Regions from separate parts of the Homo sapiens genome. Here regions 2, 3, 4 and 5 are each reported to be linked to region 1. The links are microRNA targets in miRTarBase. Many come from high-throughput screens and were not tested one by one. Region 1 holds a microRNA gene; each other region holds the end of a gene's coding sequence.

Region 1 (4,000 bases):
GGTTGCAGTGAGCCATGATCACGCCACTGCACTCCAGCCTGGGCAACAAAAGCGAAACTCCATCTCAAAAAAATAAAAAAAAATAAAAAAGAATAGAAACCAAAATGGAGACCATTTCCACAGGCACACGTAAGACTCGAGGGAACCCTACCAGCCTCCAACCAGATCCACTTGGTCTGGAGGCAAAAGCACAAGTACACGAGTGTCTGCGACTGAGAATCCTGCAGTCCCCAGACAGCCGAGGCCCCGGCCCTCCCCACTGGGCCCCTCATCCCCAGGCCTTGGGAACATGCTAATAAGGTGAGGAGGCGCCACAAAACCTCGTGGGGCCAGAAGGAGTTAATTTAAGTTCATCTTCCTTCAAAATGAGGTCACTAGCTTGGCACATGGTGGCTGTCTATAGACTCATTCAGCAGCCCGCTCCATTCTTCTACCTGATGGGGGGCAGAAGTGCCCCACCAGTGGCCCCCTGGCTGGACGTGAAATCGTAAAGCAATTAATCAAACCTGCTAAAAGGCCTGGCTGACAAGAGCAGGCTGGCTGAGCTATCTGTCAATGTTGCTGTGTTTATCATGGAAATCCAGCAGGGGCCAGGGAGGCTCTGTGTCTGTCCAGGCCAGAGGCCAAGGAAAGATGGGCCTGGCTGCGTGGGGCTCCTCTCTCCCTTGCCCAGGCGCCCATCTCAAGGAAAAGAGATGTCTCACATGGGCCCTGAGGGGTAGGGGGTGTGTGTGTGTGTGTGTGTGTGCGCGTGCGTGCGTGCGTGCGTGTGTTTAGTGCGGTGTGTGTGTGACATAGAAAGACCCTCCCATATCCGAGACACTAATTAGGCTTCTTTAGGCTGCTATTCAAGCATGGGACACAGACCAGTTACTGCTTCGTTCTCATCACTGTTTTCTAGGAATCACTCAGGATGACTTTGTGGAGGACCAACTACGAGGGGCTGCTCTGTGAGCACCAAGGGCTCACTATGAGAACCTGTCATGGTGAGGCAACAATGCTCAGTCAGGGTTTAGAGACACAAGCAAATGAAAACTTCGCCGACAAAATAGTTTGCAAAAGGCCAAGAAATCTAGATCTAGCTAATCGTCAACCTACAGGCATCAACTAGCTGCAGTCTCACAGCGGTCAGGCTGACGGCCTGGGTAGTGTGGGACTTCTGGCAGCATCTGGTGCAGCCTGCAATATCCCCAAACACTCACCAGCCCGCACACCTGCCGGCAAATGAACACGAACCCATACCAACTCTGAGTGGTTCAGTCTAAAAGACAACACGGTTTCTTGCATTTTGCAAGAGCATAAGCCCACAGTGTCTGTGAGCAGGGACGAGGGCAGCTCCTGGGAGGTGAGTGTCGGGGGGCTCCCACCTGCCCAGCTCTGGAGGTCTCTGCTGGTGAAGCATCCCCAAGTCCTGCCTATCCAATACGAGCGCCCCTCAAGCAGCTAAGGGGTATTTGGTGATCAAAGAAATTTGAGAAACTCTGGAGAGACGACTGTTTTCTCCACATGCTGTCAAATACCTAATGAAGGCAAATACGAAACCCAGTGACAACGGGAGTCCCCCGCTGGCAGCGAGGCCTGGCTCAGAGCCCCACGGAAGCCGAGCCCTGCTGCTACACTGGGAAGGCCCCACAGCCTCGGCCCTGGTCTCAGTAGCCTTTCTGGGTCCCAGGGCTAGCCAAGATGAACTGCTGCCAATGGCTGAGAAATGTGGCTGCTCTCTCCTGGTTCTCAGTGAAGGACAGGAAGGAGCTACAGTAGCCATGAATGAGGGTTTCTTCCTAATGTTCTCCAAAATGCCCAGAAAAAACTAACACATCAATGTTTATTTCCCTCCACAGAGAGTCCGTGACTCACGGTAAATATGCAGAAAGGATAAAAACCATTTTCACATGTTACGCGGATCAAGACCAAATACTCAAACCTGGTAAGGGAAACAAGTGACACACTGTCGAGAAGGAATTTTCACTGAGGATACTGTCTCAACCGTCCCTCTAAGTTCCTTGGAGGTGAGTTAATTACCAATCAGTCGATTGACAAATGCCCCCCATCTTGCGCAAGGTATCTTTTCACCAAGCTAAGCTGCCCTCAACAGGCAGGGAGTTTTACTGCTGTCTCTTCATACTCACCAGAAATAATACACTTTGCTCCTCACAACAGGCCCGTCAGCAGCCTCAGAGAACCATGCCAAGCAGGGTTTCGGCAGAAGGTGGCTACTGCCTCCAGACCGGGCAGCCCCAGCCTGCAGCAGCAAAGGGACCTCACCAAAGGTTCTGGAGGTCCCGTGACCTGCCTTCCCTCAAGCCAAACAGCTGAGGGGGGATGTGAAACCCCAGCTGCCTCTTACCTTTGCCTATGACGAGGCCACACTTATCGGCTGGCACCGTGTATGTTATCTCCTGGACGCCACCAGGGGCTCCCACGCTCCAGTCGCCACGGCCACGACCTCTTCCTCTGGCTGCTGCCAGGCCTCCAAAGCCGTCTCTTTCCTGGAAAGATCACAGGGCTGTAGCGACCTCTGCCACTGCCACAGCACCACTGCTCCTCTCTTTTCCAGGGAGGAGGTTAAGTGACAGGATGTAATCAATGCCACCCATCAGAACCTAGCACCTTTCCACACTTCCCATTCTGAAGGGCTCTTTCAAGCCAGAATTAACACCGATCACAGGTGTATCTGGGGAGGACCTGTGCAGACGAACACACGTGGTTACATAAACAGCTCAAATGTATCCAACAGAAATAGGCAGACACAAACTCCAAGGCTGAAGCCCAGCGGCCTTTCTCCCTGGAGCTTTCCTCACTGGGCCCCGATCTACAGGCATCAAGAACTGCTTTCTCCCTTGCAGCTGAGGCCCCTCTTTCCTGCGGCGGACACATACTGGGCCTATGGGAAGTCAGATATGCACAGCCTGCTGACCCTCCCCAACCAGGCACTGCTATGAGTCACAACACCTGGCACTCCAGTCAGCAAGAAGGATAAACGGATTTTACTCAGTTTTAGAAAACTTCTTGGCTGTTGTGCCCCCAAGCAGCAGCAGCAGTAACAGGTTCAAGAGTGACCATTCAGGGATACTTCAGAAGGGAGGAACAGAGGGAACCTGCCAAGGCCTCCTCCCCATGTGGGGCTGGAGAAGTCTCTGAGGCATTCTCCCACTGTTCACCCAGCAGAGAGAAAAACCTAAATCTAACAGCGGACAGAGGAAGAGCCCTTTCATTGAGACAGCAGCAAGTCTCATTCCAGCCGCTGTCCGCGGAGTCATTTTGGAGCTGCAGTATTTAAACTCTCTTAAATGTGGAGGGTGAACCTGGTCAAGCTAAGAGCTATTTCATGGAAGGGAGAAGCTGCACAGACTTTTCAACACATGAAGAAATGTTGGGCAAAACCTGCTCATGTTGATTAAGAGTAAAGTGAACGTTTACCCAGAATCTAAACCAGCAGAAAGCTGAGACAATTGGAGTGCTTTTCCCCCGCACTCTGCTCTTATGAGACAACTGCCAAGTAAACAAGGCAATTTTAGAATGGATGTTCACACACGCACAGGAGCGCACAGTCAACTTTCTGGGTATGCCACAGATCTCGAAGAAAAGGTTTTCTCCCAAACATCTCGCAGCCTCTGCAGTGCAAGGTTCATAAACTTTTTTTGAGACAGAGTTTTGCTCTTGTTGCCCAGGCGGGAATGCAATGGCAGGATCCTGGCTCACTGCAACCTCCGCTTCCTGGGTTTAAGCAATTCTCCTGCCTCAGCCTCCTGAGTAGCTGAAACTATAGGCATGCGCCACCACGCCCGGCTAATTTTGTATTTTTAGTAGGGACGGGTCTCACCATGTTGGTCTTGAACTCCTGACCTCAGGTGATCCACCTGCCTTGGCATCCCAAAGTGCTAGGATTACAGGCGTGAGCCACCACGTCCAGCTAATTTTGTATTTTCAGCAGAGACAGGGTTTCACCATGTTGGTCAGGCTGGTCTCGAACTCCTGACCTCAGGTGATCCGCTTGCCT
Region 2 (6,358 bases), not on the chromosome of region 1:
CATTCATTGTCAAATCTTTGAGAGAGAATAATAATTAAATTCAGCAGTGTCACTGGTACAGAAGGAGGAGCACTGAGCCTGGAGTCATAAATCTCAAACCATTTGTTGAGTACTTAGAACCGATCTTTGGCTAGTAAGCATTTACACATTTTTCTTTCATATAAAAGGACCTGAGTTTGAATCCTGGCAAGGCACTTCACCTTTCTGAGCTTGAGGAATGAATCCTGGCACAGTTTTCCTCATCTGCACAACAGGAATGGATGATTATATTGTCTGTGTCAAAAGATGATACAACCTTTTTTTTTTTTTTTTTTTTGAGACAGAGTTTCACTCTTGTTGTCCAGGCTGGAGTGCAGTTGTTCAGTCCCGGCTCACTGCAACCTCCACCTCCTGAGTTCAAATGATTCTCCTGCCCCAGCCTCCTGAACAGCTGGGATTACAGGCACCCACCACCATGCCCAGCTAATTTTTGTATTTTTAGTAGAGATGGGGTTTCACCATGTTGGCCAGTCTGATCTTGAACTCCTGATCTCAGGTGATCTGCCCGCCTCGGCCTCCCTAAGTGCTGGGATTACAGGTGTGAGCCACCGCACCTGGCTGATACAACTATTATGTAAGCAAATATATGTATAAACACGTAGCATAGCTTTCAGTCCAGGCACGTTTTCCTTTCTTTCTTTAGACCAGTGGTTCTCTATTCTAACTGAACATTTAGAATCACTAAGGGAACTCTTTCAAAATACCAGGGCTGGGGCAGTATTCCAGACCAATTAAAATAGAATGTCGGCAGCAGAGGGGGGCGCGGGGGACCCAGGCTTTAGGGGTCCTTCCCTTTCTTTCCCTGTTTCCTTTTTCCTTTCCTTTTCCCTTTCTCCTTTCCCTCTCCCTAGTGAAGCTAATGTACTTTGCACAGTGTTAGCAATTATCACCCATTCATCAGGTATTAATTCATTTCGATCCCAAGGGCATAGGCTTGATGTACAATAAGGAGTTAAGGACTGTGAGTTCTCTGATAAGGTTTGGTTATAGTCATTTCTCACTTCTCACCCTCTCCAGGACTACTTCCAGCAACCCAGTCTCCTGCCATGTCCGACCCCATCACGCTGAACGTCGGGGGGAAGCTCTATACAACCTCACTGGCGACCCTGACCAGCTTCCCTGACTCCATGCTAGGCGCCATGTTCAGCGGGAAGATGCCCACCAAGAGGGACAGCCAGGGCAACTGCTTCATTGACCGTGACGGCAAAGTGTTCCGCTATATCCTCAACTTCCTGCGGACCTCCCACCTTGACCTGCCTGAGGACTTCCAGGAGATGGGGCTGCTCCGCAGGGAGGCCGACTTCTACCAGGTGCAGCCCCTGATTGAGGCCCTGCAGGAGAAGGAAGTGGAGCTCTCCAAGGCCGAGAAGAATGCCATGCTCAACATCACACTGAACCAGCGTGTGCAGACGGTCCACTTCACTGTGCGCGAGGCACCCCAGATCTACAGCCTCTCCTCTTCCAGCATGGAGGTCTTCAACGCCAACATCTTCAGCACCTCCTGCCTCTTCCTCAAGCTCCTTGGCTCTAAGCTCTTCTACTGCTCCAATGGCAATCTCTCCTCCATCACCAGCCACTTGCAGGACCCCAACCACCTGACTCTGGACTGGGTGGCCAATGTGGAGGGCCTGCCAGAGGAGGAGTACACCAAGCAGAACCTCAAGAGGCTCTGGGTGGTGCCCGCCAACAAGCAGATCAACAGCTTCCAGGTCTTCGTGGAAGAGGTACTGAAAATCGCTCTGAGCGATGGCTTCTGCATCGATTCTTCTCACCCACATGCTCTGGATTTTATGAACAATAAGATTATTCGATTAATACGGTACAGGTAAAAGGACCCCAACAACACTGGAGATGGGGAGTCCCAGGAAGCTCATGTCAGCCAGGTCTTGGAGGGCATCTCGCCAGTGGTGCGAGGCAGGGGACTATACTAATCTGTATTAATTGTGTAGCAGGACTTGATTCCCCCCATGATGAAGTCCACCTTTTGGAATCCAGTGTCCTCTGAACAGAACCACCTTTTTTCTTGCCATTTTGAGCTGCAGACAGGCGGTTTATTATGACAAGTGAAGAGTCAGCTGATGTGTACTAAAGGAGGCCATAGGAGGATTTTCCAGCCAGGACAAAAGAGCAGCAGTTTTCTCCTGGGCTCCATCTCTCTGTACCGCTAGCCAGTGCCGCATTTATCCATCTGTAAGAAGGCCCTGGTGGAGAGGATGGGATGAGAACAAGAGGCTACCTCCAGTTAACCAGGACATAAAGTCCCCAGCGGTTCCTGTCACACCTGCTCCTCCCTCCCCAGGGTGCATCCATGATCGTGGATGTTTGCCCAGGGGTGACCATGTTTGGCTGGCTTGGAATGCTGTGCATTCTCAGAGCTCTGTTAGTGTCCCCTCTTGGGGGTCAGAGATGAGGTGTGGCAGGGTCTAGAGGAATGAGTGTCCAGGCAGAGTTCAGAAGGTAGGAATGTCCCTCTTGATAGGGCTGAATCAAGGGATTCCTGGCTTTAGAAAGGGTCTGCTATCTTTGCAAAAATGTGCAAGTATCTGTAGCCAGTGTAATGAAATCACTTCCAAATCCAGCCTGTTACCTGACTTTTGTCATTGTTTTCCCAAAAATTTGAGGTATCATTGAAACAGGTCATTTTAAACAAATCTATTACGGATTCTCAGGGTTGGAAATAATTCGATGATTGCTTAGTCCTCCCCCACCCCTAGAACACCCCAGCACATCTGAAGATGAGCGCCTCTCCCTGGGTACCTGCAAGTGATCACCTTGGCCTGCTTGCATACCTTGGCTGATAGGAAGCGCGCCATCCCCAAGGCAGCTCCTGCTGTGGTTGGACAGTGCTGACTGTTAGACAGTTCTTCCCTATATTGAGCCAAAATCTGTCCTGCCACTTGCTGGATCTTGGTTGCAGACCTTCCCATTCACCCAGTTATATATCTTTGCTTTCAAAATAGTCACCTTGAGAGACCAGACATTTTTCTGAAAACATCATTACTCAGAATTCAGATTCCCCTCTGGGATCTGTCTTCAGAATCAAAGTTAGCTCTTTTCTATCCCCTGTAAGTCAGTCCCCTTTTGTTGTAGCTTCACCTCGTTTGTGACCCCCACTTCACCCACCTTCCCCACCATCTGTGGCTCCATATACCTTTCGACCATTTTCTGCTGGAAGAGGAAGATTCACGGCCCCTGAGGAGATCCAGAGGAAAGAGACGGTCTCCAAGGGTGCTGTGCAGCAAGGAGCCCAGGAGTGGTATGAACCGTAACAGTGCCCTTAGAGTAAATGTGCGGCCCCTAAGACCCTGCCCTCAGGAAGGCGGCCTTCCCCTGCAGTCCTGTGTCCCACCCCTGGGTCTCTGTAGGGTGCCATCCAGGGCAAGCAACCCAAGCACTGCTTCCCACCGGGTGATGAGCCATGCAGGCCTCCAAACTGCACGTCATGATTCATCCCTAAAGTGAGTTTGGCCTTGAGAGTCCCCAGGGTCCTCCCCCACTGGGCAGGGGTCCTCAAAGCCAAGGAAGCCTGGTGACACAGGCACCCATGGGAGGTGGGCCCAGAAAGGGGCTTCCCATAGATAGGCCCTGTGAGTAGGGAGCTTGTACACTGGGCCATGGGCAGCGCCAGTTCCCTTGAGCAGTAAAGGCCCTTTTCCCCCTACGGTGGGACCCAGGAGTCTCTCTGACAGCTTTTCTGCCAGGCACAGTGGCTCATGCCTGTAATCCCAACACTCTGGGAGGCCGAGGCGGGAAGATCACTTGAGGTCAGGAGTTCAAGACCAGCCTGGCCAACATGGTGAAACGTCGTCTCTGCTAAAAATACAAAAATTAGCTGGGTGTGGTGACAGGCGCCTATAACCCCAGCTATTTGGGAGGCTGAGGCAGTAGAATCGCTTGAACCCAGATAGCAGAGGTTGCAGTGAGCTGAGAGTGTGCCATTGCAGAGAGACTCCATCCCAAAAAAAGACAGCTGTCCCAGGCCAAGGGTACTTGGGAGAGCCCCTCATGGAGAACCTAGTTTAGACCAAGTAGCAGAAGCTGTGGTCATAACAAAACAATTTGAGGAAGAAATCTTACAAATCACCACTGCCCTTTCTCCTTTTCCATAAAACTGTCCATCTTTTCGGTGCTCCCTAATCCAAGCAGCTTGACTTTAGAGAAGTTGCAGAAGCAGTGAAGCCACTAACATGCTGTGTGACTTTATGCAAGTCACTCACCTCACTGAGCCACCTCCATTTCTTCATCTGTGAAATAGGCATAACAGTAATACATAACCCTACCTACCTCACAGGGCTGTTGTGAGGATCAAATGAAATAATGTAACGTGAGAATACAGTATAAATGATAAAGGATTGTTATTCTTTTGTGTCTGCTTGTAACGGGGAAAAACACTGGTCTTGAGTCACAGTGACTTGGGTTTGAATCCAGAGCTCCAAGCCTCTGTAACCTTGGACAAGTCATTGAACTTCTCTGATTTGTTTGCTCATCAGGTAACAACCCCTTCCTCCCGGGGTTATGCAACTTAAACGAGTTGGTGTCTGTGAAAATCCTGAGCTGGGCCTGGCACCCAAGAGCTCAGTGCTCTTGCAGGAGGTAGTCATGGTGGACTCTGGTGGGGGACTAGGAGTCCCAGGAGAGTGGAGTTTAACAAGCCCTTACAGAGCATTTGCTGCGTGGGCCCTGAGGATGTGAACAGCCACGAGTAAGCTAAGTTCAGCCTGGAGAAAGTTTAGAGCTTCACACAACGTGCTTTGGGAACTCAGGGAAAGGGCTCAGTTCTCAGAAGGAGCCTTGTGGATGGCCAAGGTGGGCCTCTGAGGGTAGGTCAGGCTTGACAGAATAAGCAAGAGAGTGCCGTGGGCACAGGGAACAGCAAGAGCAGAGCTGGCAACCAGGCAGGAAGGGCAAGCAAGGGAGGGTATGCGTTCACACCACAGCTGCACAAGGGGAAGGGGGGCACGCAGTGCATCTCGTTGCCTGCGTCCAGGTTAGGTGAACTCAGCCTTCTGCTTGGCAAAAGCATGAGAAAGACGGAGAACAAACGTTCAGCAGTGATGGCAGCACCATCGACAGACGGGTGAGTCTGAGTGCGAACTGTGAGCAGGGATGTGCTGCTTGTGAGCCCTTCATTGCCCTGGGTGAGACCTTGTGGTGATCTCACCTGGACCCAGTTTAGCCTTTTATCCCGCCAAGGGCTCCATCCCAGCTGAAGGAGCAACGCCGGGAACACAACACTCGTCAGCTCTCAGTTCCTGCCCTAGGTGTGGTCCCCTGCATGCAGAGGGACAGAATGGGTGCTTGAGGGAACCCTAAGCACCCACCTTGGTGTGACTCCTTCATGAGGCCCACCACCAAACAGGGACCCTGCATGCTTGAAGGCCAGCAGCAGGCACCACTCTGACCTCATGCCCTCAGCACCTCCAAAAGCCCTCCACCCTCTTAAGAAGGGCCTAGCCTCATGACCCTGGTCTGCCTTTGGGCCAGATCTCCCTGTGCAGGGGTGGCCAAGGTCCCCACTTGCCCACACCTCAGAATTTGCAGCCTAGGACGCAGCCACTCTTTTGTAAACTGCACCCTAAATCACACAGCATTTGTGTAACCACCCATTCACCCCAAACTTCCAGCTTCCTTTTACAAATTACTCTTAAAACAGTCTGACTTTGGGAGGCCGAGGTGCGCGGATCACGAGGTCAAGAGATCAAGACCATCCTAGCAAACATGGTGAAACCCCGTCTCTACTAAAAATACAAAAATTAGGCATGGTGGCACATGCCTGTAGTCCCAGCAACTTGGGAGGCTGAGATAGGAGAATAGCTTGAACCTGGGAGGCGGAGGTTGCCGTGAGCCCAGATTGCACCACTGCACTTCAGCCTGGCAACAGAGTGAGACTCCGTCTCAAAAAAACAAACAACAACAACAACAAAATAGTCATCAGGCTAGGTGTAGTCGCTCAGACCTGTAATCCCAGCATTTTGGGAGGCCAGGGTAGGCGGATCACTTTAGGTCAGGAGTTCGAGACCAGCCTGATGAACATAGTGAAACCCTGTCTCTACTAAAAATACAAAAATAAGCCAGGCATAGGGGTGCGTGCCTGTAATCCCAGCTACTCGGGAGGCTGAGGTACAAGAATTGCTTGAACCTAGGAAGCAGAGATTGCAGTGAGTCAAGATCACACCACTTCACTCCAGCCTGGGCGACAGAGCAAGAATGTCTAAAGAAAATAATCTTTAAAAAAAATCCGTCTGTCATCAGTGGGGGCTTAGCCAAGGTCAGTCCTGGGCCAATTTCTTGGCCCAAGAAATTTCAGCCTATCCCTTTC
Region 3 (4,890 bases), not on the chromosome of region 1:
TTGCCTAATTATTCAACACTTAAACTCATGAATGATTATGTTTGTGTACAATACAAAAGTATTCTGCACAGAATCAGATATAAATTATATTTTCCTTCCGCAGTGCAATGATCATGGGGTATAACTAAACAAACAAACAAACAAAAAGATACTAAAGATACCGTCTATAATTGGACCCAGGTCAGTGGTGCCTCCAGGCACCTGGCCAAAGTCAACACAGGGGGTTTGGAAGCGGAAGATAATATCAACAATGGCTAACACATTCAACGCACAAAACAGAATCCTGTTAGAACAGGTGAGAAGTAGGGCTGGGTGCAGTGGCTCAGACCTGTAATTCTAGCACTTTGGGAAGCCAAAGTGGGAGGATCACTTGAGTCCAGGAGTTTGAGACCAGTCTGGGCAACATAGTGAGACCCCGTCTCTACAAATAAAAATTAGCGGCCGGGCGTGGTGGCTCATGCCTGTAATCCCAGCACTTTGGGAGGCCAAAGCAGGCAGATCACCTGAGGTCGGGAGTTTGAGGCCAGCCTGACCAACATGGAGAAATCCTGTGTCTACTAAAAATACAAAATTAGCCTGGCATGGTGGCTCATGCCTGTAATTCCAGCTACTCAGGAGGGTGAGGCAGGAGAATCACTTGAACCCGGGAGGCAGAGGTTGCGGTGAGCCAAGATCGCGCCATTGCACTCCAGCCTGGGTGACAAGAGCAAAACTCCGTCTCAAAATAATGATAATAATAATAATAATATTTAGTTGGGTGTGGTGGTGTGCACCTGTAGTTCCAGCCACTCAGGATGCTGAGGCAGGAAAACTGCTAAGGTCCGGGAAGTTGAGGCTGCAGTAAGCCATGATAGCACCACTGCACTCAGCTTGAGCAACAGAGACCCTGTCTCAAAAGAACAGGTGAGATACAACAGCAGCATAGTACTTTTTTCTGGGGGGGGGGCGGTGAGACAGAGTCTCACTCTATCGCCCAGGCTGGAGTGCAGTGGCATGATTTCCAGTCACTGCAACCTCTGCCTCCCGGGTTCAAGCGATTCTCCTGCCTCAGCCTCCCAAGTAGCTAGGATTACAGGTGCCCACCACCACACCCAGCTAATTTTTGTATTTTTAGTAGAGATGAGGTTTCCCCATATGGGTCAGGCTGGTCTCGAACCCCTGACCTCAGGTGACCTACCCGCCTCAGTCTCCCAAAGTGCTCGGATTATAGGTGTGAGCCACCGCGCCCGGCCAGCATAGTCCATATTCTGAACTTACACAGGATGTAAAACAGTTGCAGAGTGGGTTTTTATCCAAATAGCTATTTTGGGGTTTCAAGGAAATAAAATAATTCTTGGGACAATTTGGATAGTGAGAGTTGGGATATGAAGGGATGCTGCATTCCTAAGTAGGTGGTCACAAAGGAAAATAAATTGTTACCATGCGTTGTGCAGATTTTTGTTGTTGTTGCTCTTGAGAGAGTCTTGCTCTGTTGCCCAGGTTCGAGTGCAGTGGCGCAATCTTGGCTCACTGCAACCTCCACTTCTTGGGTTCAAGCGATTCTCCTTGTGCAGATTTTTTTAAGAGATAGGGTCTCAATCTGTTGCTCAGGCTGGAGTGCAGTCACATAATCATAGCTCACTGCAGCCTTGAACCCTTGAGCTCAAGTGATTCTCTCGCCGCCTCAGCCTCTTGAGTAGTGGAAACTCCAGATACGTACCAACCACCACACCCAGATTGTAGAAAAAATTTAACTGGAAGGCACACAGGGCAAAATGCATGTGATTTGTGTACAGGTTCGTTAACTTTCCCAAATGCATCCATCTGTGGAATCATCACCCAAATCAAGGTAAGATATTTGCTTTATCATAGAAGGTTCTTTTGTGCTCCCTTCTGATCAATATGCTATTTTTTTTTTCTTTTGAGATGGAGTCTTGCTCTGTCACCCAGGCTGGAGTGCAGTGGCACAATCTCGGCTCACTGCAAGCTCCGCCCCCTGGGTTCACCACATTCTCCTGCCTCAGCCTCCAGAGTAGCTAGGATTACAGGCGCCCGCCACCATGCCCTGCTAATTTTTTGTATTTTTAGTAGAGATGGGGTTTCACCATATTAGCCAGGATGGTCTCGATCTCCTGACCTCATGATCCGCCCACCTCGGCCTCCCAAAGTGCTAGGATTACAGGCATGAAGCCACCGTGCCTGGCCCCATATTCATTCTCAAAGGTCACCACTGTTCTGATTTCCCACCATAGGCCAGTTGAGCATGTTCTAGCCCTCCTCTAAATGGAACTATACAGTATTTACCGTCTCTGGCTTCTTTATCTCAACAAATTATCTGAAATGCATTTCTGTTGCAGTGTAGGTCGATATCGCTCTTATTTATTGCTGAGTAATCTTCCATTGTATGAATGTACCAGTGTATCCAATTGATTTGTTCCCAAATTTTGGCAATGATGAGTACAGCAGCTAAACGTTTGTGGACACATTTTTGTAAAAGCAAAAGTTTTCACTTCTCTTGGGTAAATACCCAGGAGTGCAACTCCTAAGCTGCATAGTAAATAAATATATATTATATATATATATATTTTTTTTTTTTTTTGAGACAGAGTTTTGCTTTTGTCACCCAGACTGGAGTGCAATGGTGAGATCTTGGCTCACTGCAACATTCTGCCTCCTGGGTTCAAGCGATTCTCCTGCCTCAGCCTCCCAAGTAGCTGGGACTACAGGCATGTGCCACCACGCCCGGCTAATTTTTGTATTTTTAGTGGAGACGGGGTTTCACCATGTTGGCCAGGCTGGTCTCGAACTCCTGACCTCAGGTGATCCATCCACCTCGGCCTCCCAAAGTGTTGGGATTACAGGCGTGAGCCACTGCACCCAGCCTGTATTTTTTAACTTTATTAAGAAACTGCCCAGTTATTTTCCAAAACAACTCAGCCATCTACTAAGGGAGCACCAACCAAGAGATGAGGAGTCCTGTTGTATCCCATCCTCCCTTGGTCTTGTATTCAGCCATTCTACTGTGTATAGTGGTGTCTCATTGTGGTTTCCCGTGGTGTTTAAGAGACAGGGTCTGGCTGGGCGTGGTGGCTCACGCCTGTAATACCAGCACTTTGGGAGGCCAAGGTGGGTGGATCACTTGAGGCACCGGTCTCTACTAAAAATACAAAAATTAGCTGGGCATGGTGGCAGATACCTGTAGTCCCAGCTACTTCGGAGGCTGAGGCAGGAGAATCGCTTGAACCTGGGAGGCGGAGGTTGCAGTGAGCCAAGATCGTGCCACTGCACTGCACTCCAGCCCAGACAACAGAGCCAGACTCCGTTTCAAAAAAAAAAAAAAAAAAAAGCGACAGGGTCTCACTCTGTTGCCCAGGCTGGAGTGCAGTGGCATGATCATGGGTCACTGCATCCTTAAACTCCTGGGCTCAAGGAATCCTCCCCACCGCAGACTTCTGAGTAGCTGGGACTGCAGGTGTGCACCACTGCACCTGCCTAATTTTTTGTGTTGTTTTTGAGACAGAGTTTTGCTCTTTCACCCGGGCTAGAGTGCAGTGGTGCGATCTCGGCTCACTGCAACCTCTGCCTCCCGGGTTCAAGCAATTCTCCTACCTCAGCCTCCTGAGTAGCTGGGACTACAGGCGCCCACCACCATGTCTGGCTAATTTTTATATTTTTAGTAGAGACAGGGTTTCACCATGTTGGCCAGGCTGATCTTGAACTCCTGACCTCGTGATTCGCCCGCCTCGGCCTCCCAAAGTGCTGGGATTACAGGTGTGAGCCACCGTGCTCGGCCTTAATTTTTGTATTTTTTTGTAGAGACGATGTCTCACTATGTTGCCCAGGCTTGTCTTGAACTCCTGGCCTGGAGTGATCTCAAAGTGCTGGGATTACAGGTGTGAGCCCCCATGCCCAGCCCAGTGGTGTTTCTTGATGAGCAGATACTGTCATTGCAGTGGCCAGTGCTTTAAGTCAAATTCTCAAGAACACCTGATTAAATAGTTGACACTCAATTTTATTGCTAAAAAAAATGTCCTCTGGAGTGACAGCAGGTATTTGTCCTCAGCCTCTCCCCAGAGTCCCTGGGAGTGTTTCTGTTATTGTGGAGGGAATAGGGGATCTGGGGACAGGGTGGGACGTACCATGGGGACAGGAGGTCACAGAACACACACACACACACACACACACACACACACACACACGTGCACACACACATCCCCCCACAACTACAGCCGCCAAAATAACCAGCATGGTGTTGTAACATCCCCCCAGTGGGGGCTAGAATTCCCCATGGTGACCTGTGACCTGCTCCCTGAGACAGGGGAGGCCAGGCAGGTCACGGTGGGGACGCAGCAGAACATTATTTCTCCATCTTGCTGTTTTCTAGCCTTGAGTTGGGGACATGAGTGAGAACTGGGGGTTTTGAGGAGTAACCCTTGTGAACACATGTACTCCAGCAGCCAGGCATCCCAGATCTCCTGTCCTGGAGGGTGCTGGGGCCCCTGGCTCCCCAGAGTGTGCAGGCAGACCCCCAGAGCCCTAGCTCATCCATTTATCCATTCCTCATAATCCAGTGTCCAAAGAGCACCCCCAGCAGGGCAGGGAAGGTCCCTCCCGGGGTTTACATGACTGATTCCTTCTCAGAGGCGACCGTGGCATCCCCTGCGGGCCCCCGATAGTGTTTGAGGAGGGGGTTTCCTTCCTCAGTGGGGACTGGCAGCGGATCCAGGGGCAGCTCACTCTTCACTTGTATCAACTCAGGCTCTGTGCTTCTCGACTCCGTACGGTCCACGTAATTTTGGAGGAGTCCTGCCCCCAGAGCGTCACCTTCTACATTGAGGACGGTACAGGACCGGTCGCTAAAGGGGTAGAAATGACAGCAAAGTAAGCGGGAGGGGAGAGGGTGAGAGGGAA
Region 4 (4,000 bases), not on the chromosome of region 1:
CTGGATGTGAGGGATTGAACCATGCACACTTGCAAGCAAGATGAAGGGCAAACAGATGACATCAAATCAAAATTAACCCCACAAAGAATCCAGAAGACCTCAGATGGTAAAGGACAGAGGTCTACGTCTACTGCTGTTAGTGCTCAGGTATCCATCCTGTTTTCCCTAATCTCCTGATTCTGATCCAAGAGTCTTTGAGACCTATGTCCTAGGCCATCCTTTCATCTAGAAATGGAAACCATGGCTGTGGCACCAGGCATGGTCAACCCTGCAGTGATTCAGCTGCACAAAGGGGTAGTCCAGAGCTTAGATAGCTGTCTGATGTGGCTAGGACACAACTGTCATTTTATGGAATAAGTTAAAACAACACATTAGTATCACAGCAAACAAGAAACTGAGATCACTTATATATCTATGTAATAGTTAAACTGTCTATAAGTATTTTTCTCCAGAAACTGAAAATACCATAGACATAATTTTATTAATCCTCACAACACATCTGTGAGGTAGTATGGGGTGAGGTCAATATGAAAGCATCACCCCCATTTTAGAAATGAAGACACAGACGTGCAGGGAGGGCAGGAGGTTTCACTGGGGCCACAGGAAAAGAAAACAAAGTTGAATCCCGCTCTTTCATCATCTGCAGTCGATGGCCGAGAAGAGGCGGCTTGCCTCCCTCCTGCTCTGACATTCTCTCTAAAGTGTTATGACTAGACCTATCCATGGATAGGATGTGGTTGTTTAGACCCACTGGAGCCATTTCCTTTAGGCAGACCTGGACAGGTGCTCTCCCTGAGGTCAAAGACGTCAATTTTCGGCATATATTTCAGATGTGTGTGTGTGTGTTATAAGTAACATTTGTAGAATATAGTTGCTAAAATCTTCTGCCCAATTCAAAAGCAGAAAAGATACATTTGGCAAAATAAGGTTCAACCCTTAAATATTTTATTCTCACATAAGATAAGAAGTGTTAGAATTGTTATGGGAAGCTGTCACCTTGCTGAATATATCTGCTCTAGGCCCACATCTCTCTCTTTGCCATGCACATTTGGAAGCCAATAAGAGCAACAGACCCATTATGTGCCCTTGCACAATAGCAGCCTTTCGGTAAGAAAAAAAAAATGCCTGCTTGAGTTCACGGTTTATAGAAGGCGATGGTTCCTGGGAAGAGGCTGATCCCTTGCCCCAGGATTTACGGCAGAGGCAGCATTCAGAAGTGCACCTCTCCAAAGGTGTTTCACAAACATTGTGTCAAAATGTTTTTGGCCGATGGAGAAAGAAACATATGGAATGTTCTGTTTTTATCTGCTTTTCCTTTGCCAAACTGAAAGCCCTGTGATGGGGGTGGGGAAAGAGAGACAGTTACTCAAGCCAAGCACGGCCAGAAGGGGCGCCCTTGGTCATTTGCTGCCCTTTTTTTCTGAGAAGGTCCACTTTTTTAGTTGTTGTTTTCAATATTCAGAGATATGACGATTCCAGTAAGCCCCCTCCTCATTACCCACTCTGGTTGTAAAATACTTCTGGGGCTTGCTCATTCTCCGTCCACACTTAGAGAGTTTAGGAATAATTTTTTTCAGAATTACTCCAGTGTGTGGGTTGGCAGGTTGTAGAAAGTGGCACTGCCCCTACTGTCTCTGAGACCAGAGGGGTTTTCAGTGCTTTGCCGGGCCACAGCCAGAGACAGGATGAGCCGGGGTCAAGTTTCTGTAAACTAAACAGTCATGGCAGCAAGGTCCAACTTTAGAAACAAAAGTTCATTTTCAGGTTCTTTATGACACTGTAGGACAATACAACACATTTTGAAGTCGGACCCAATGTTTGTTTTCTACTATATGAAATCAGGACATAAGATGCTGCTTGCTAATATCAGCTGTTACAAGAAGACAGAGTTGTCGCCATGAAATAAAGCTCTCTAGGAAGCACACAGAAATAAAAAGGTCACCATGCATACCAAGAACAACCCATCAGCCAATAAACTAAACACTTTGGAAATAAAAACTTAACACATCATTTCATTTTGTTAAAAATAAAACGTATCACTAATCTGTGAGTGTCTTGTTCTGTCACAGTGGGCATTGTGATAAATCAGGGTTTCTCAATCTCGGCACTACTGATATTTTGGGGTGGATGATTCTTTGCTGTTGTAGGTTGTGCTGTGCATGGTAGAATGTTTGGCAGCATTCCTGGCTTCTAGTAGCACCCCCAAGTCATGACAATGAAAACTGTCACCAGACATTTTTGAATGTCCCTGGGGTGGAGTCAGGGGGCAAAATCACCTCCTGGTTGAGAATGATTGCAATACACAGATACCTACAAAGAGGAACAATTCTTTCTCAAAATTTATTGTGCAGAATTTTAAGACTATACCCAGGGTTGCTCATTTATTAAAGCAAAGACTTAGTAAGGTAAGTGTGTGGGAAGAATAAATGGATTAATCATAGTCTGTTTCCTATGAAAATGCCTCGTTGAGTAATTGCAGATAGACTAGTGCCTCTTTTTTGTTTTGTTTTGTTTTTAAACATTTTACAGCCATTATCCAACAGACAGTAAAGCAGTGGACCAGTTGCTGTGTGGGTATAAAGCAAACGGTCTCTGGGCTCCTCCAAGCTGTGGATATCTCTGGCCATTATCAATAGCTGATTCTCACTTGTCCTAATGAAGTACTCAGTGCAGGTTAGCCTCCTTCTCCCCCGCCAGCTTCTCTTCCACTTCCCCACACCGTACATGCCTCTCCCTTTCTCTCTATAACTCAGCTCATCTCATAGCCTTTTTCTTTGGAAATGCAACTCTGCTGATCACTTGTGGGCTGGGATCCCAGCTGCCTTTTGAACAGAGCAGACATCCTTTACAGAGACAGGTGGCCTGGAGGGGAGAACAGGTAGGGGCACACTGAGATCCCACAGCAACCTGAGAGATTCTGCCCCGTGACCTGCTGGCCCCCTCCAGGGCACTTCCTATTTTCATCTTTCATTAATTAGGCAGCTAAGAAGCTGCTTTCCAGCTTGTAGAGCCAAGCAGGCAGCATCCTGTCAGAAACAACCAGATAAATAGAGATTAAAAAGGAATCTGAGAAAACCCTGCTCTCTCCCATGCAGGGTGAAATCCTCGTAGAGCTCATTTCCTTTCCCCTCATTAATACTTAATGTAATTTCCTAAATAGAAGTTTAAGAAATAACACAAATGAAATGTTCCCCTGAAAGTAACCCCTAACAAAACAACCCAAATCCTCCTCCTCGGTCCTTCTCAAAGTGGGTCCTGCAGTGGGGAAAGAAGCCTTCACCATGGTGGTCTGGCCTGGCTGGTGCAAGGCTGGCCCACTTCAGCTGCAAATCAGCCTCCACTCACCTTTAAAGAATGGTTCTTCTTGTACCAGAAAGGGGAAGTTGTAGCAGCCAGAGGAGAGGGAGGAAAACAAAAACAACCATACCAACAAAACAGGGCTTAAGATTGTCGTTCAATGCGCATCAGGTACTTATTAATTCTACTGGATAAGCACTTATAAATAAAGAACAGTTAATCCTCATCCCAGGCCATATTCCATTGTTAGGAGTCATCGTACAGAGGGTTGTTGTAGTTTCCCCAGGACCCGTAGTCATGGTCGTCCAAAAGTCTTCCATAGGAGGAATGCCTGGTGGAGAAACAGAAGAGGGTTGTGATTACTTGGAAAAGTTGCCCATCTGAGGACAGCGTAATGCCCTGCACTGAACTGGGGATGCTTATGGGGCCAGGGAGAGGGAAAGTTGTGACGCTCTCACTAGGACAGCAGACCCACCCACCGTGGAGGCCCCGGTCTACCAAACACCCTGTCAATGACAACTCTTCCTGCTAGGATCCTGACTGGCATGTTCTGTTGGCATCATCTGAGTCCTTGTTGTCTTCTGGATCCCAAGTGCTGGGGAAGGAAGAGGAGGCCCCATTTCCATAGTAATTTAATAAGAAGAGATGGGAAAGGGAAGCTTGCATTCCTAACATTCTGACTTAGGTTCTGGGCTTAATTTTC
Region 5 (6,358 bases), not on the chromosome of region 1:
AAAGCTCAGTCATATGTTTGGAGATGCTCAATTAGGCATTTACATGGAGATGTGGAGTAGGCAGTTGTCTACTGAACCCAAAGTTCAGGAGAAAGTTTGAGCTGGAGATAGAAATTCCAGTTTTCAGATGGCATTTAGAGCCAAGAGGCTGGGTATGTTGATGGGGGAGTAAGTGTGGATGCAGGGGAGGAGAGGACTAGAGTCCTGGGCAATCAAGAGTTAAGGCCCAACTTGAAACTTGGCCACTGCTCCCCTGATGGGAGGATGTTCTAGCAGATGCCTCCTTATTGAGGACCCTCCTCAATAAGGGTTCCACGGGCTTCTGCTTCAGGGCAAGTCCCAGGTTGAGATATCCCAGGACTGAAGTGTTGCTTTAATTAGTCTCTGCCCTCTGTCTGTTGGCAGTTTAGCAGCTTAGGGGCAGTGGCTCCTGGTGACTTCCCTCCATTAAGGACCCTGAGGCAGTGATCCAGGTAAGGGTGGGTAAATAAGCATCATTTTCCCCATTCACCTTCTTTCTCACTGTCTTTCAAGGAGCCGGCGCAGCGACACTTCTTCTCCAAGCACGACAACCGTACTTCCTTTGACAAAGTGAGTGCCGAAGACAGGAAGAATGGCAGGCAGTCCCCCAGCCTAAGCTGAAGTCTGGACAGAGCAGATGGTAGGGTGGAGGGGATGACACTGAGGGAGGGCTCCTTATGAAGGCAGAGGAGTGGCTGTCTTCCCCCACAAACTTTCTCCTCTGGGAAACAGCCTATTCCCCCAAACAGAGACATCTCTATGTTGGTTTCCTCTGCCAACTTGCCAGACAATATGCAAGTATCCTGTGGGCCACTAACTTTCTGGGTGCTTCACCTTAGAATGAAAGACATCACTGGGGAGGCAGGCCAAGGAGGCCAGGGTACAGGCCAAGACAGCCAGGCATAGGACAGGTATCACCAAGCAGACTTGGGGTTAGGAGGGGCCCAAGAAGGTGCTTGGTGCCAGGAATGTGGGCCAAGGGCCCATACCGTTGAGGAGGGTCCCTATTGCCTGCTGCAGGGAATCGGAAGGCGGAAGGACCTGGAGCGCCTGTGGCAGCGGCACACCTTCCTGCGCTGGGCACCCTGTGAGATAGAGTTGCGCCAGCAGGGGCCCCTGGAATCTTCTTACCAGGCTGATTTCAGGCCAGGCCCAGGACTCAGTGGCCTCCCCCAGCACCTCATCCACTTTGTGCAGGTCCAGCCTTCCCATACCAGGACCACCTACCAGCAGAACTTCTGCTGCCCATCCCAGGGTGGCCACTATGGCAGCTACAAGGTAGGGCCCCAGGCGCCGGTCACTGACGTACTGCCTGACCTCCCAGGGATCCCAAGACCCAAGCTGCTGCAGCACTACCTTCATGCTGGGGTCTCTGAGTGTCTAAACTGGTCCAGAGCATTAAACAAGGACAGCTGACACAGCAGCCTGTCTGTGCTTGCAGCCCACAATGGGATGTAGCCCAAGAGGCTGAAAGGTAGTAGTAGGCTGCCAGGTCCTGTGCCTGTCTCCCATGGCACTTGTGCCCATGGTGTGTTTCTGTGCTGGGCATGGGAGGTGCTGCTCTGGGATCCCTGCCACTAAGTGAGAAAGGGTAAGGCCTGCAGGAGGCTAAGAGTCCAGGAGGATTGCTATAGCCACATCAGGTGGGTTCCAGGGCCCCAAGTACTACTCTGTTCTTGCAGTAAACCCAGCTGTAGAGAGGAAGATTAGAGGGCAGTCCCCAGCCTAAGTTGAAGTCAGGACAGAGCAGGTGGCAGGGTGAAGGGGGTGACACTGAGGGAGGGCTCCTTATGAAGGCAGCGGAGTGACTAACTTCCCCACAACCTTTCTCCTCTGGGAAACAGCCCATTCCCCCAGAGACATCTCTGTGTTGGTTTCCTCTGCCAGCGTGCCAGACAATGTGCAAATATCCTGTGGGCCACTGACTTTCTAGGTGCTTCACCCTAGAATGAAAGGCATCACTGGGGAAGCAGGTCAAGTACTCAGTTTAGCTATGGGGAAAGCAGACCCCAGAGACCAGTACTAGTGGGCGACAAAGGCTGGAAGAAGGAAGAGTTGGCAGCTTTCTCAGGAGGCAGCTGCCTTTGAGGGGTTTGTTGGGTGGCCACACAGTCCTGTCCAAGAGACGGCTGCCCCACAGCTGAGACAGAAAGAGACTGCCCTGGGCCACAGAACCCACTGCACCACCCCTCCCTGTGGGGGTGAGCAGAGACCCTAAGGAGACACTCTGTAACTTGGATCTGGAGGTCTTCCTAACCTTGTGGTATTCTGTTGTTTTCTGAGCACTTCTCTGGTCATCTTATCCTGCCATCCTTTGGTGACATGTGACAGCCCTTCCTTACTGCCCTAGTGCTCTCTAATCCCCAGGACAGTAAGGAGGCGCTGTCATCACATGTTGCCAAAGAATAAGCTGAGGCTCAGATGGAACAGAAACACCAAATCACTTTGGGAACACCGACCAGATCCAAGAGGCTCCTTCTGGACCCTCATCCCTAGGGGCATTGAGACCCCCAAAGGAAGGCAGGGGCAGTGGAAACAAGGGAGTTCACACCAGGGTCCACACACTAGGTTTTAGCAGCACTTTTACTTCCACATCCAAACTCCCTGGGTCCTCACAACAGCCCTGTGAGGTAGGTAGGGTAGGAAGGTTTCAGAGATCCCCATTTATAGATGAGGATGCTGAGGCACAGAGAGGTGAAGTGACTTGTCCAAGGTCATACAACCAGCAGTGTAGAGGGCTCAAAGCCAGCATTCCTCCACTTGAACTCCTGCGCTCCGGCCCTCTGGCAGTTCCCACATCCTCTCTATTCTCTCTGTGTCCCCCACCCTCTCAACTCTCCTGGGTCTGCAGGGACCCTAAAGGCAGCCTGGCAGCTGAGATTTTTCAGGAATGGCAACTGGGGTAGGCCTGGTCAACTCCAGATAGGAACTGACCCTGAAGAGCATGAGGCCAGCTTTGCTTCTCCCCATTTCCCAGTTGGATGGAAGGCCTAGTAGGTCCCAGGGCAAGGATGGAGCTAGGCATGATTCATGAACGAATGGTGATAAAGGTAGGTGTAAGCATATGTGTGTCCTGCACTAAAGACAAAGGCTCCCCTAACCCAAGGCCCCAAGGCAGTGTTTCAAGTGCTCACCCCCATGCCTCTCTCATCCCACAGAGCCACAGTGAGTGTCCTCAGCAGCAAAAGGAGCCATAGAAATAGCTGCCTCTGGCAATGAGCTGCTCCAGTGGACAGCTCCCACCAAGCCTTCAGACCCCATCACGCAGACACAGTGCCTCCACGGCTTGACTGGGGCCCTGGGCCACACCCCCAATAACAAACAGCCGGGGCCCAGCCTGCAGACTAGAGCAGGAGCAGCGGGCAGTGGGCATGGCAGGCAATGCCTCCCAGCGCCGCCGTGCAAGGCTAAAGCTCTCCACAGAGCCCAAAGGACATGGCTGGTTTCCTGCAAGAAGGAGAGAGAAGGCTGTGAGAGGCACAGGCCGTAGGGACTCCAGGCCCTTCTGCTCCCTAAGCCCAGAGAATAGCCCAGTAGTTATCACCCCAGGATGAGCTATCAGGGCCTTGCTCCTCATTGCCTATGTTCATCATTTGTTCATTCATTTATGTTTCTATATGTTCTCTTGACTGTGCATACAGTGGTCATTTGTCCTGCTGCTGTCTCGTAGACCCTTGCTGGTGCTTGACAGAGCCCCCAGTCACTGAGGAACACCCTGAGTGCTGGGCCAGGCAGACCACATCCTGCCTACTTCATAGATAGGGAAAAGAGCTCACAAAGCCCTGACCCCTGGAGTGCCTGGAGATGGGCAGAAGGTGACACACATGCTGGGGGCTAGTCTTTCCTGTCTTGGGACTCCCTCCTCTCCCCAGCCCCATAGAGACTTACCAAGGCCCCCAATGGCCACAATGTGGCCCCCAAGGGACCCAACCACAAAGTCTGCCCTCTTATCCCTCATGCGCAGGCTGCGGGGCAATTTGGTCCAGGACCCTGCAGGAGAGGGGAGGTCAGATCTAGTCATGTACACACTATGCCCCTCCATCCCACAGAGAGCGGGAGGACAGCCCAGAACAGCCACTGCTCACCATGCTCCAGGTCAAACATCTCCACAGTGTTGACAAAGTGTGGGCGAGAGTAGAAGTTGTGGGGCCCAGGCTGCTGCAGGCCACCCAGGCTAAAGACGCTGCCTTCAGCCATGGCGCAGCCAGCAAAGGCCCGACGGCTGGGTAGGCTTGGATGCCGGGTCCATGTACGGGCCTCCAGATCAAAGGCTTCAAAAGCAGTCACCGGGAGCTTGCCCTGGCGGCCCCCTGTCAATGGAATTGGGGTACCTGGGAAGGAGCCCAGGAGGCTTGGTGGGCTCCTTGCTCACTAGGTTGCTAATCTGCCTGCCTCAGCCTCCCACATCCTGCTGTGTGCACACTTGCACATGAATCATCCACCCTACAGTCCCTCAGGTACTGGGGTTTGGTTTTCCAACCACAGCAAGACCACCAGGGGTCAGAGCCTCAGAGCAGGCATGGATCACCCCAACAAAGCTTCTCTTGTTTTGCCATCCTGGACTGAGCCTGATCCCTATCCCAGCCAACCTATGAGGATGAGGATTTCTAGACTCTGAGCCCCCTTCCCACATTCCCCAGGCCCTTACCCAGGACATAGATCTTGTTCCCGTGCAGGAAGGTGGAGGCCCCATAGCAGGGTGTGGGCATGGAGGGTAGCGAAAGCCAGCAGTCCCGACGGGGCTCATACACACGTACCTGGGCCTGGGGGGCCGTGTCAGGGCCCATTCCCCCCAGAGCATACACCATACCATCTGCATAGAAAAGAGTAGTTCAGATTGTACCTCAGCCTGCCAGGGTACCCCACCCTGACAGCTGCCCTGGTAAGTCCTGGGGGTGGCTGGAGACCCATGTGTTTATAGCATCCCTCCCCAGCAACAGACACTCTACTACCTGCCTGCAGTGGGGGCTGGGAGATCTGGGATTCCTACTCTGGCCAGGGCCCCTCCGAGTAAAGAGCAGGAGGCAGCCGATCTAATTATAATCCGACTCTGTCTCCCTGGAGATGCTATGGCAACAGAGTCTGGCATCCAAGCAGGGCTGGCCTGGGCTGGTGGTCAGACCTGGAGGCCACAAGGTGGGGACTCCCCTCGGGGAGGAAGATGGGGGGATGGCTTAAGCCAGGGGTAAGAAACATGGGGATCTGCTTAGCACAGAGCTCAGTCTGGGGAGGAGGACTGGGGACCAGCTGGAGTTGGAGATGGGGCTGGGAGAGGAATGGCTTGGGTCTGCTGGGTAAAGATACTGTCCACAAGCCTTCTGCCCCAGGATCCCTGCCAGCACCTCTGTGTGACACTCTTTCATTATAGTAGGTTCTTGCCCTCTGTTAAACCCTCAGAGTCAGCTACGACATGTCTGGGGGCCTTAGGGTAATGGGCCAGTCAGCTGGGGGCTTCCATGGCAACCATCCCAGATCAGCTTGGCCTTTGTCCATATCAGGCTCCCTGGCGTGTGGGAAGGGTTGGGGGTGGGGCAGGAAGTCTAAGCACAGGCTCTGAGCCAAGGCCCTACTCCTCTCCCCCACCCCAGACTATTTATAACCCTGGGAGTCATTAGGCCATCCCACCCCCATCTCTTAGAAATGAGGAGTGGGGCAGGAACATGGCTGGGGTCTCCCATCATCCTGGGATCGGCTTGGGCTCTGCCTCCCACCTTAGCCAGAAAAGGCAGTTAATAGAAGGCAGCAGCTCAAATCTAGGTTGGAAAGGATACAGGGGACAAGGCCACATCCTGGGCACCCATGTAAAAATTACAGCTCTTGTTCAGTCTCTGAGGGTAAGGGACTAAGTCAGGAAATAATAAAAGGTGTTAGGGTACCTGAAGTGCCTTCCTTGGGAGGCCACTCACCTCTCTCCACAGTTGCAACCCCCATGGCTGCTTGAGGGAGGGTGGCCCGACGCTCCCAGCGGCCCTCATCCATCAGGAAGGCCTCTACAGCAGCTACCGGGCTCTGGACCTCATCCACACCACCCACCACTAGCACCTGCTTGCCCAGAACTACCGCAGCTGCACCAGCCCGGGCAGTGGGCAGGGGTGCCAGTGCCAGCCATGTGTGCGAGGCCATGTCCAGTGTCTCAGCAGTGTCCAGGGGCAGTCCAGCCCGGCCACAACCCCCCAACACCAGCAGGTGCCCATCTTGGTGTGCCACTGTGCCATAGACCCGGCAAGTGGGCATGGGGGGGAACACTTGCCAAGCAAAGGCCCGGCCACCTCCTGCAGACATGGTGTTCACTGCCAGTGGCAGGCCATGCTGTCTGCTCAGACTGTAGGCCTCACTG

Evidence for each region. Region 1 holds the annotated microRNA hsa-miR-6856-3p (UACAGCCCUGUGAUCUUUCCAG, at 2,490-2,511, opposite strand). A microRNA usually pairs through its seed, bases 2 to 8, with sites in the 3' UTR of a target mRNA and lowers its output. Matches are read on the target gene's strand: a 7mer-m8 pairs with bases 2 to 8, a 7mer-A1 pairs with bases 2 to 7 and ends in A, and an 8mer does both.
Region 2: the mRNA of KCTD21 is a reported target of hsa-miR-6856-3p. Seed matches in the 3' UTR shown: 7mer-m8 at 4,330-4,336.
Region 3: the mRNA of SLC1A5 is a reported target of hsa-miR-6856-3p. Seed matches in the 3' UTR shown: 7mer-A1 at 4,204-4,210.
Region 4: miRTarBase lists PARM1 as a target of hsa-miR-6856-3p. Seed matches in the 3' UTR shown: 7mer-A1 at 2,525-2,531.
Region 5: miRTarBase lists KLHDC8B as a target of hsa-miR-6856-3p. Seed matches in the 3' UTR shown: 7mer-m8 at 2,639-2,645.

What each region holds. Positions count from the first base shown.
Region 1 is chr9:130,624,853-130,628,852 of GRCh38, reverse strand. It overlaps MIR6856 (microRNA 6856), which reads right to left and starts at 2,556; the gene lies at 2,490-2,556. FUBP3 (far upstream element binding protein 3) reads right to left here. Exons shown (of 19, transcript NM_003934.2): 12 at 2,348-2,489.
Region 2 is chr11:78,169,282-78,175,639 of GRCh38, reverse strand. It overlaps KCTD21 (potassium channel tetramerization domain containing 21), which reads left to right. Exons shown (of 2, transcript NM_001029859.3): 2 at 1,057-4,391. The coding sequence starts at 1,086. The coding sequence ends at 1,868. KCTD21-AS1 (KCTD21 antisense RNA 1) reads right to left here. Exons shown (of 3, transcript NR_102281.1): 3 at 1,663-1,820. Among named protein-coding and RNA genes, the nearest start is that of KCTD21, 16 kb to the left of the region's middle. RefSeq lists an enhancer at 1,300-1,801.
Region 3 is chr19:46,770,913-46,775,802 of GRCh38, forward strand. It overlaps SLC1A5 (solute carrier family 1 member 5), which reads right to left. Exons shown (of 8, transcript NM_005628.3): 8 at 3,971-4,835. The coding sequence ends at 4,598. Among named protein-coding and RNA genes, the nearest start is that of SLC1A5, 15 kb to the right of the region's middle.
Region 4 is chr4:75,045,791-75,049,790 of GRCh38, reverse strand. PARM1 (prostate androgen-regulated mucin-like protein 1) reads right to left here. Exons shown (of 4, transcript NM_015393.4): 4 at 1-3,628. The coding sequence ends at 3,544. All of the region lies in intron 1 of LOC107986289 (a long non-coding RNA gene), which reads left to right. Among named protein-coding and RNA genes, the nearest start is that of LINC02562, 37 kb to the left of the region's middle.
Region 5 is chr3:49,172,715-49,179,072 of GRCh38, reverse strand. It overlaps KLHDC8B (kelch domain containing 8B), which reads right to left. Exons shown (of 6, transcript NM_173546.3): 2 at 5,928-6,358; 3 at 4,670-4,834; 4 at 4,107-4,331; 5 at 3,910-4,011; 6 at 2,587-3,468. The coding sequence starts at 6,303. The coding sequence ends at 3,272. CIMIP7 (ciliary microtubule inner protein 7) reads left to right here. Exons shown (of 4, transcript NM_001080528.3): 3 at 535-591; 4 at 1,021-1,439. The coding sequence ends at 1,437. Among named protein-coding and RNA genes, the nearest start is that of KLHDC8B, 4.3 kb to the right of the region's middle.